3 separate regions of the Homo sapiens genome follow, and regions 1 and 2 are each linked to region 3. Evidence: fine-mapped expression QTL. A gene starts in region 3. Each other region holds a variant in brackets. All regions are shown on one strand. Distances are between the middles of the regions.

What was found. PIP is the estimated chance that this variant, and not a neighbour inherited with it, causes the effect.
Region 1: its variant is fine-mapped to the expression of PLAU in whole blood (TOPMed, PIP above 0.99). The same link has a PIP of 0.9 or more in blood mononuclear cells.
Region 2: its variant is fine-mapped to the expression of PLAU in pancreas (GTEx, PIP 0.99).

What each region holds. Positions count from the first base shown.
Region 1 is chr10:73,939,412-73,942,167 of GRCh38, forward strand. No RefSeq gene overlaps it. Among named protein-coding and RNA genes, the nearest start is that of C10orf55, 18 kb to the left of the region's middle. RefSeq lists an enhancer at 1,294-1,453. The variant C/A (reference allele first, on the strand shown) is at 1,364.
Region 2 is chr10:73,875,968-73,878,723 of GRCh38, forward strand. No RefSeq gene overlaps it. Among named protein-coding and RNA genes, the nearest start is that of CAMK2G, 2.8 kb to the left of the region's middle. The variant G/A (reference allele first, on the strand shown) is at 1,555.
Region 3 is chr10:73,909,697-73,912,452 of GRCh38, forward strand. It overlaps PLAU (plasminogen activator, urokinase), which reads left to right and starts at 1,436. Exons shown (of 11, transcript NM_002658.6): 1 at 1,436-1,522; 2 at 1,829-1,916; 3 at 2,345-2,372; 4 at 2,519-2,626. The coding sequence starts at 1,860. It overlaps C10orf55 (chromosome 10 putative open reading frame 55), which reads right to left. Exons shown (of 5, transcript NR_160938.1): 4 at 2,504-2,588; 5 at 273-2,399. RefSeq lists enhancers at 1-111, 1-417 and a silencer at 1,383-1,982.

The sequences.
Region 1 (2,756 bases), 30 kb after region 3:
ACTCTCTCTCTCTCTCTGCGTGTGTGTGTGTGTGTGTGTGTGTGTGTGTGTGCCACCACACCCGGCCAACATTTTTAAAAATAATAATAAATAAAAAAAATAATAAAATAATAAAACGGGGCCAGGCGCGGTGGCTCACGCCTGTAATCCCAGCAATTTGGGAGGCGGACGCAGGAAGATCGCTTAAGCCCAGGAGTTCGAGACCAGCCTAGGCAACAAAGTGAGACTTTCTCTCTACAAAAAATACAAAATACAGCTTTGGGCATTTTTTCTTTTTTTGAGATAGGGCCTGGCTTTGTCACCCAGGCTGGAGTGCAGTGGGTCATCACCACTCACTGCAGCCTGGACCTACTGGGCTGAAGTGATCCTCCCACCTCAGCCTCCCAAGTAGCTGAGACTACAGGCATGCGCCACCATGCCCAGCTAATTTTTGTATTTTTTGTGGAGATGGTGTCTCATTTTGTTGCCCAGGTTGGTCTCGAACCCCCGAACTCAAGTGATCCTCCTGCCTCAGCCTCCCCAAGTGCTGAGATTATAGGCGTGAGCCACCATGCCTGGCTTTCTTTTACTCATTTATTTATTTATTTGGGTGTGGGGGTCACAGCTTTGACTTGCTAAGTATACACATTTGAGATATACCACACTTTCAGTAACTTTGTTTTGGCATTAAAAATCTGTATCTATCTATATCTAGAGCTTTGAAAGGGAAGTAATAAACATTTTTTTTTTTTTTGAGACAGAGTCTTGCTCTGTCGCCCAGGCTGGAGTGCAGTGGCTAGATCTGGGCTCACTGCAAGCTCCGCCTTCTGGGTTCACGCCATTCTCCTGCCTCAGCCTCCCGAGTAGCTGGAACTACAGGTGCTCGCCACCACGCCCGGCTAATTTTCTTTGTATTTTTTAGTAGATACGAGGTTTCACCATGTTAGCCAGGATGGTCTCGATCTTCTGACCTCGTGATCCGCCCGCCTCGGCCTCCCAAAGTGCTGGGATTACAGGCGTGAGCCACTGCGCCCGGCCAACATTTTTTAAAATAATAAAACGGGGCCAGGTGCGGTGGCTCACGCCTGTAATCCCAGCACTTTGGGAGGCCGACGCGGGAAGATTGCTTGAGCCCAGGAGTTTGAGACCAGCCTGGGCAACAAAGTGAGACTTTGTCTCTACAAAAAATACAAAATAAAAATAAAACGGAAGGAGTCTGGCTCAGTCTTCACCTCTGAGAAGGGTAAGGAGAGCTCCAAACCGGAGCCTGAGAGCGCCTGTCCCCACTGGGCACTTGGACTGAGCGTCAAGAACCGAGGGCGGCCCGTGGGAGTCTTCCTTCCGCGGCCCGGGCGCGGTTCTGGCTTCATCTGCATCGCTCTGG[C/A]GGCCCCTGCTGGGCTGGCGGTGAAAGGCGACCCGGGATGGGGCGGTGCCCCGAGCTCTGGCTGGAGTAGGAGACACTGCGTGGGGGTGGCCTGGTGGGCAGCACGAAGACGTTGGGCTCAAGGGGACTCAAAGAAGACAAGCTCTGTTTACCGCACGGTTGTTTATTGCCACGCTGTGGGCTAAGGGATTGTTCTGAAAGTGCTGCTGAGGAAGGGGGCAAGTCCAGGTCTGAGGGCAAGACTGCTGAGCCCAGGGAGGGAAATGTCCGATTGCTGGGTGGGAATTCATGACCCTATTTCTTCTCTTCTCCTTCCCGGCTCCACGTGGTGACCATAAAGGGCCTGGCCTCTCTGAGCAGGGCAGCCATCCTCCTCCGTGCAGCTGGTTGGGGTCATGAACTCTGATTCAGAAAGAGGGAGCAGGATTTCTTGCTAAGACCTCCTGGCCGAAGTCAAATTCTCTGACCTGCTTTTACTGAAAAGCCTTGTTCTGAGGGCATACAGGAGCCTCAATCAACCATTTAATAAAAATGCTTCCTCACCGTCCTCATGGTCTTTATCCCTCTGGGGTGGAAGGTAGGATTCAGGGCCCCAAACCTTTCCCTGAGCATACTGGTTACCCAGTGGGTCCTAGTGAGTATTTGAGATAAAAATAGCTTATGGGAGCCTGTGGCTTAGTGCAGCTGCCATGGCTAGTGCCTTGACCAAAGGTGGTATCAGGTGATTTGGAAAATAGAGCCTTTTGGGTCTGGCAAAGGCTCACTTCAAATAGACAGAGGTTTTAGTCACTGTGAGTCAAGCAGTTTATGCCACCACAGCTTGCTGGCGCCCCTTCACCCATTCTCATCCAATGTATTGCAAATGGAAACTTTAAACTGGAAAAAGCAGCTTTTTATATATGACCACTTTTTTTTAAATTCTTTTTTGAGACAGGGTCTTCCTCTGTCACCCAGTCTGGAGTGCCGTGGTACCATCTCGGCTCACTTCAACCTCCGCCTCCTGGGCACAGGTGATCCTCCCACCTCAGCCTCCCGAGTAGCTGGGATTACAGGTGTGTGCCACCACGCCTGGCTAATATTTGCTACTTTTAGCAGAGGTGGAGTTTCACCATGTTGCCCAGGCTGGTCCTGAACTCCTGGGCTCAAGTGATTTACCCACCTCAGCCTCCCAAAGTGCTGGGATTATAGGTGTGAGCCACCACTCCCAGCCATAGCCACTTCTTTATATATGGTTCTTCATATTTGTGTGTGAAGTTTTGAGTCCTTAGGTCGCTAGTGGTAGCAGCCTTCCCAGATTCTGTCATCTTTCTCTTGTTTTGTACATGACCCAGAGCCTATTAATAGGGAACCGTGGCCAAGCTAAGCCCTTAGGCTCACGAAGCAGGTTCAGAGG
Region 2 (2,756 bases), 34 kb before region 3:
GAGTTCGAGACCAGCCTGGCCAACATGGTGAAATCCTGTCTCTACTAAAAATACAAAAACTAGCTTCCCGCTGAATTGTAGGCTCCAATAAAGCGGGGCCTCTGCACCTTTTGTTCACCATTGTACACTCAGCCCCTGACCCTCAGTAAATATTTGTGGGATGGCAGAGGGAGATACCATCCCTTCTCCTGTCCCCACCATCACAAGTTGGTGGGACAGAGGCACATAACTGTCTTGATGGGGGACAAACAGGCTGGGCAGGTTCCTGACCTGCCTGGGCAGCTGTCCCCTGAGGCTGAGGCCAGCCCCAACTGGGCAGGGTGGAGCTCAGCCAGAGGCTGCCACTCAGTCTTGATTACAGCAGGACGCCCACTGGGAGTCGGGTCTCCCTCGCCAGCAGGCTCGCTCTGCCAGAGGAGGGGGCTGAGAGGTGTCCCAGCCTCCCAAGCTGCCTCCCTGAGGGGTGGGTGGGGCAGAGCTCTCCAGGAGTGCTCCCCTCCTGTCCTGACCCAACAGCCCTGAGAGCTGCTTTGGGAACCAGACTGCCCAGTAGGGGTGATTAGGGAATGGGAGGGCATGAAGCCCTAAAGGAAAAGCATTAGCAGTTCTCTTGGGAGAAGGGTAGAGAGGGCCAAGGGAAAGGGTAGCAGTGCCAGAGCACCATGCCCTACCCCTCCCCAGGGCAACAGGAGGTAAAGTGGAGAGTAAGGCCACTTCCTATCTCAAAGCACCTGGGTGAGAGCCAGGTCCCAAGTCCCAGTGTGGGGTAGGGCAATGAGATTGCATACATGGGGATGCCAGTAAGTGTTGAGTTTCTGTCATCCATCTCCAAAGCAGAAGCAACTTTGAATATCAGTTGATCATCAATGTGCCCTTCCTAAGTGCTCAAGGCAACTTGCTTCCTGACCTCCAGGCTGATACTTGAAACTTTCTATTCATGAATGGAAGGTGGAGTGGAGGAGACCCTGAGAGGTCAGAACAAGCACAGAGGAGGGCTGCCATGGAGTCCCCTAGGAGTATCCTGGGGCAAATGTAAAACAGGACTACAACCCTGACCAGTCTCATGTGCCTGCTGTGAGAGGAACATCATCCCGACTGAGGGGAGGGTTCAACACTAGGTGTTTTGGGGTAACCACGTAAAGCATTTTGCATTGTGTCTCTAGGTAAAAGGAAGAGTGATGAGAAAAATATTGGAGTGAAGCCTCAGGGGTGACTCATAGTACTATATAAGTGGAGCTAGCTGCCTTTCAACAAATATGACTCCCTACCATAGGTTTGTCACTGCCTTTTACTTTTTGAAACATTCAAATAAAGTAGAAAATTAGAATTCACACAATTAGAAGAAAACTCAATCCATCGTCTTTTTTTTTTAACCCCTCAGACAGGGTCTCGCTCTGTCCCCCAGGCTGGAGTACAGTGGTGCTGTCACGGCTCACTGCAGCTTCACCCTCCCAAGTAGCTAGGACTACAGGCATGTGCCACCACACTCAGCTAGTTTTACATTTTTTTATAGAGATGAGGTCTCACAATTTTGACCAGGCTGGTCTCAAACTC[G/A]TAGACTCAAGCAATCATCCTGTCTTGGCCTCCAAAAGTGCTAGGATTACAGGCATGAGCCACCTTGTCCAGCCTCCTTTTTCCTTTGTATCTCTACTTCACTTTTCCCTTCCTCCCTCACTACTTCTCTCAACAGCGCAGCCTCTGACGCATCCACGGTGGTGGTTTGGAGCCTATAGACACTTCTGTGTGCACACACAAACACACACCCTCGCACATACACCCTCCTCTATCCCCACTGCTGTAGCGCCCACACAACCTCCAGCTACCCTACAGCAATTAGAGGGAAGATACACACAAATAATAACAAGCTCACCAGCTCCCTCCACTTCAGTGTCTATGGCAACCTCCTGGGGTCTTTGGGCTGGGTTGCTCTGGTTGCAGCCAGTCCCCTGGGCAGCACCAGCACTCAGGCTGTGCTCAGAGCTCAGAGAACAGGGAATGACAAAGATATCAGTACCCTGATAAGCACCAGAGGCACCCCACTGGGTGGGACCATCTTTCTCTTTGAAGCCTGCAAAGTCTCACGTCCATGAGGGGTTTTCAATCCATATTCTAAGCAGAATCCATGGGGTTACGAGGCCAGGCCGCAACAGCTAGTCAACATATATATATTGACGTTCCACATAAGATTTGGTTGCAGTTAAGAGTCCCTGACTAAAAAGAAGTTTGGAACCCATTGGACTTCTGGGTCCTTTCCAACTCTGAGATTCTATGATTAGTTTTGGAGAATTAGGAGTGATGAGATCATGACCTCTCTCCAAGGAACTCTGAGAGAATTATTAATGGTGCGGCATTTAAAACTGGAGAGAAGATGTGATCATGGAGATAGGAAAGAGTGAGAAAGCAAATACAACATTTGTTTTGTTTTGAGACAGTGTCTCACTCTGTCACCCAGGCTGTGGTGCAGTGGTGTGATCCTAACTTACTGCAGCCTCTAACTCCTGGGCTCAAGCCATTCTCCTGCCTCAGCCTCCTGAATGGCTGGGACTATAGGTCCATGCCACTATACCGAGCTTAATTAAATTTTTTTTGGTAGAAATGAGGGTCTTGCTATGTTGCCCAGGCTGGTCTTGAACTCCTGGCCTCAGGCTGTCCTCCTGCTTTGGCCTCTCAAAGTGCTGTGATTACAGGCATGAGCCACTGTAAACACAGTATTTAAATAAGCAATCCTCACACTGGGAGGGAGTGAAGGATGCCCC
Region 3 (2,756 bases):
AGGCCTAGGCTGGGAAAGGGCCCAAAGCCGCTAGTGGATTGCTGGGACTCAGCCTCCTCCTTCCCACTAAGAGAGCGAGTCCTACTGGGTTCAAAATGACCCCAAGCCCTGGTTCCTGACACTAGGGGAAAGAGATGGGGGTGACAGAATCACAGAATCCCTGCTATGTTCCTCCAAGTGTGCCCAGAGATGCGTGTGTGTGTGTGTGTGTATACACAAATGTCTGCTTATCCTCAGGCAGGAAGGGTGGATGCAGTCATTTACACATGGTCTGTTTTTCTGGAGGACAATTTTATTTGATAAACAATTGTTTCTATCTGAATAGAATAAACAAGGCTCTATGATGAAGTAAAACACTAAATACACATGCATTAAAAAATGCATAATTATCTTTTTGGAATGGGCTATACAGAGATGTGCTTTTTAAAATGTTAAGAGTGTAAAAGGACAAACAGTGAAAAATAAATCTTCCTCTTATTTTGTCCTCCAGTCTCCCAATTCCTCTACTCAGAGGTGAGAACAGAACTTCCACACCCTCCAGAACCTCCACAGTTAGAACTGTCTACATGTTTCCATTGTCTTTACTTTTATTCTTGCCTGCACAAATAAATGAATTGCTCATTATGGAAACTTCCCAAAAGACCCGTTAACACTTCAATAGGAAGCACCAACAGTTTATGCCCTAGGACTTTGTTCCCACAATCCTGTAACATCATATCACGACACCTAACCCAATCCTTATCAAGCCCTGTCAAAAACGGACTTTAAACCAAGCTGCAAATTTTCAGTAATCTGGCCTTGCCTTTCCCCCTCTGATAGCACCATCAAACAAACCCCCTTACTGCCGAAAGCAATAAGCCCGGCTTTGTTCCATCCACTGGTTGTGTTGGTGATATCTGGGGACTGCCACTGAACAGACGCACAGAGGGAGCCCCTACAGGCAGGGGTTTTTCTGTCTGTGCTTCTGGGAGAGTATGTCTCGTACATTTGTCGCGTTGATGAAGACTTCACAGCTCCATCAGCTGCGGGCAAGGGGGTCTGAGGCAGTCTTAGGCAAGTTGGGGCCCAGCGGGGAGAAGTTGCAGAAGAACTGATTAGAGGACCCCAGGAGGCTTCAGAGCTGGGCGAGGTAGAGAGTCTCCTGTGCGCCTTCTCTCCTCTCTGCAATTCGGGGACTCCTTGCACTGGGGCAGGCCCCCGGCCAGGTGCATGGGAGGAAGCACGGAGAATTTACAAGCCTCTCGATTCCTCAGTCCAGACGCTGTTGGGTCCCCTCCGCTGGAGATCGCGCTTCCCCCAAATCTTTGTGAGCGTTGCGGAAGCACGCGGGGTCCGGGTCGCTGAGCGCTGCAAGACAGGGGAGGGAGCCGGGCGGGAGAGGGAGGGGCGGCGCCGGGGCGGGCCCTGATATAGAGCAGGCGCCGCGGGTCGCAGCACAGTGCGGAGACCGCAGCCCCGGAGCCCGGGCCAGGGTCCACCTGTCCCCGCAGCGCCGGCTCGCGCCCTCCTGCCGCAGCCACCGGTGAGTGCCGCGGTCCTGAGATCCCCGGGCCGGATGCGCGGCGGCCCCAGCTCCCGAGCGTCTGCCTCCCCCGCCCTGGGCTGCCCGGGCTCCCTGGGCTCCCCGGCGGCTGCACGGAGTCAAGGCGCCCCGTCCCGGGCGTCCCCCGCGGGTGCCGATCCAGGCTGCCCGGAGTCCGGAGCCCAGAGAGGAGAGAGACAGCTGGGGAGCCTGGTCACCGCGGGCATCTCCCCTGCGCTGCAGTCGCCCGCCTGGCCTGCCTTCCCGTTCCTCCGCCTCTTGCCCTGACTTCTCCTTCCTTTGCAGAGCCGCCGTCTAGCGCCCCGACCTCGCCACCATGAGAGCCCTGCTGGCGCGCCTGCTTCTCTGCGTCCTGGTCGTGAGCGACTCCAAAGTGAGTGCGCTCTTGCTTTGACTGATGCTGCCCAAGGACCTCTGATCAGCACCAGGGGAGAGGAGGGGCTGCTCAGGGAGCTGGGGTCCTCCGGATTCCATCCACAGCAGGGCCAGACTCTCCCCAGGAAATGGGACAGGGTGGCAGCGGAGGCTTGAGAACCACGGGGGTTGGCACTGGCTGGCAAGGGAGGAAGAGGCCGCCGGGACTGCCCCAGCCTGCGGGCATCTGGTAGATGAAGCTTGCTTGGGTCAATCCATTTCTCCTGGCTGGAAACCCATGGTCTTCCATTTGAGAACTAGATACGAACAGGGTGAGGCGAGAGGGAGAGGGAAGAGTGGGTTTTGGGATTGGGGCCAGTTTACCCTCACCCTGGAGTCCCTGGAGCATGGGACCTTTGATGAAGCCTCCTCCCGAATCTCTTCCAGGGCAGCAATGAACTTCATCAAGTTCCATGTGAGTATCCACCCCTACAACAGTTGGCTGCACAGACAAGTTGGGAAGGCTTCAGGGGACATCCCCTCCCTGCCCTCTGCTGCAGGGCTGCGCCACCCCTTACCACTTCCACTCCCCCTCGCTTACCCCACCTTTGTTCTCTCCAGCGAACTGTGACTGTCTAAATGGAGGAACATGTGTGTCCAACAAGTACTTCTCCAACATTCACTGGTGCAACTGCCCAAAGAAATTCGGAGGGCAGCACTGTGAAATAGGTATGGGGATCTCCACTGCAACTGGGAGAGAAATTTGGGGACAGGGAGGGATGGGTGGGAGGCAAGAGCAGGCAGGAGTTAGGAGCTGGAGGTAGGGTGGGTGACATCTTCATCCCTATGTGACAAGCAT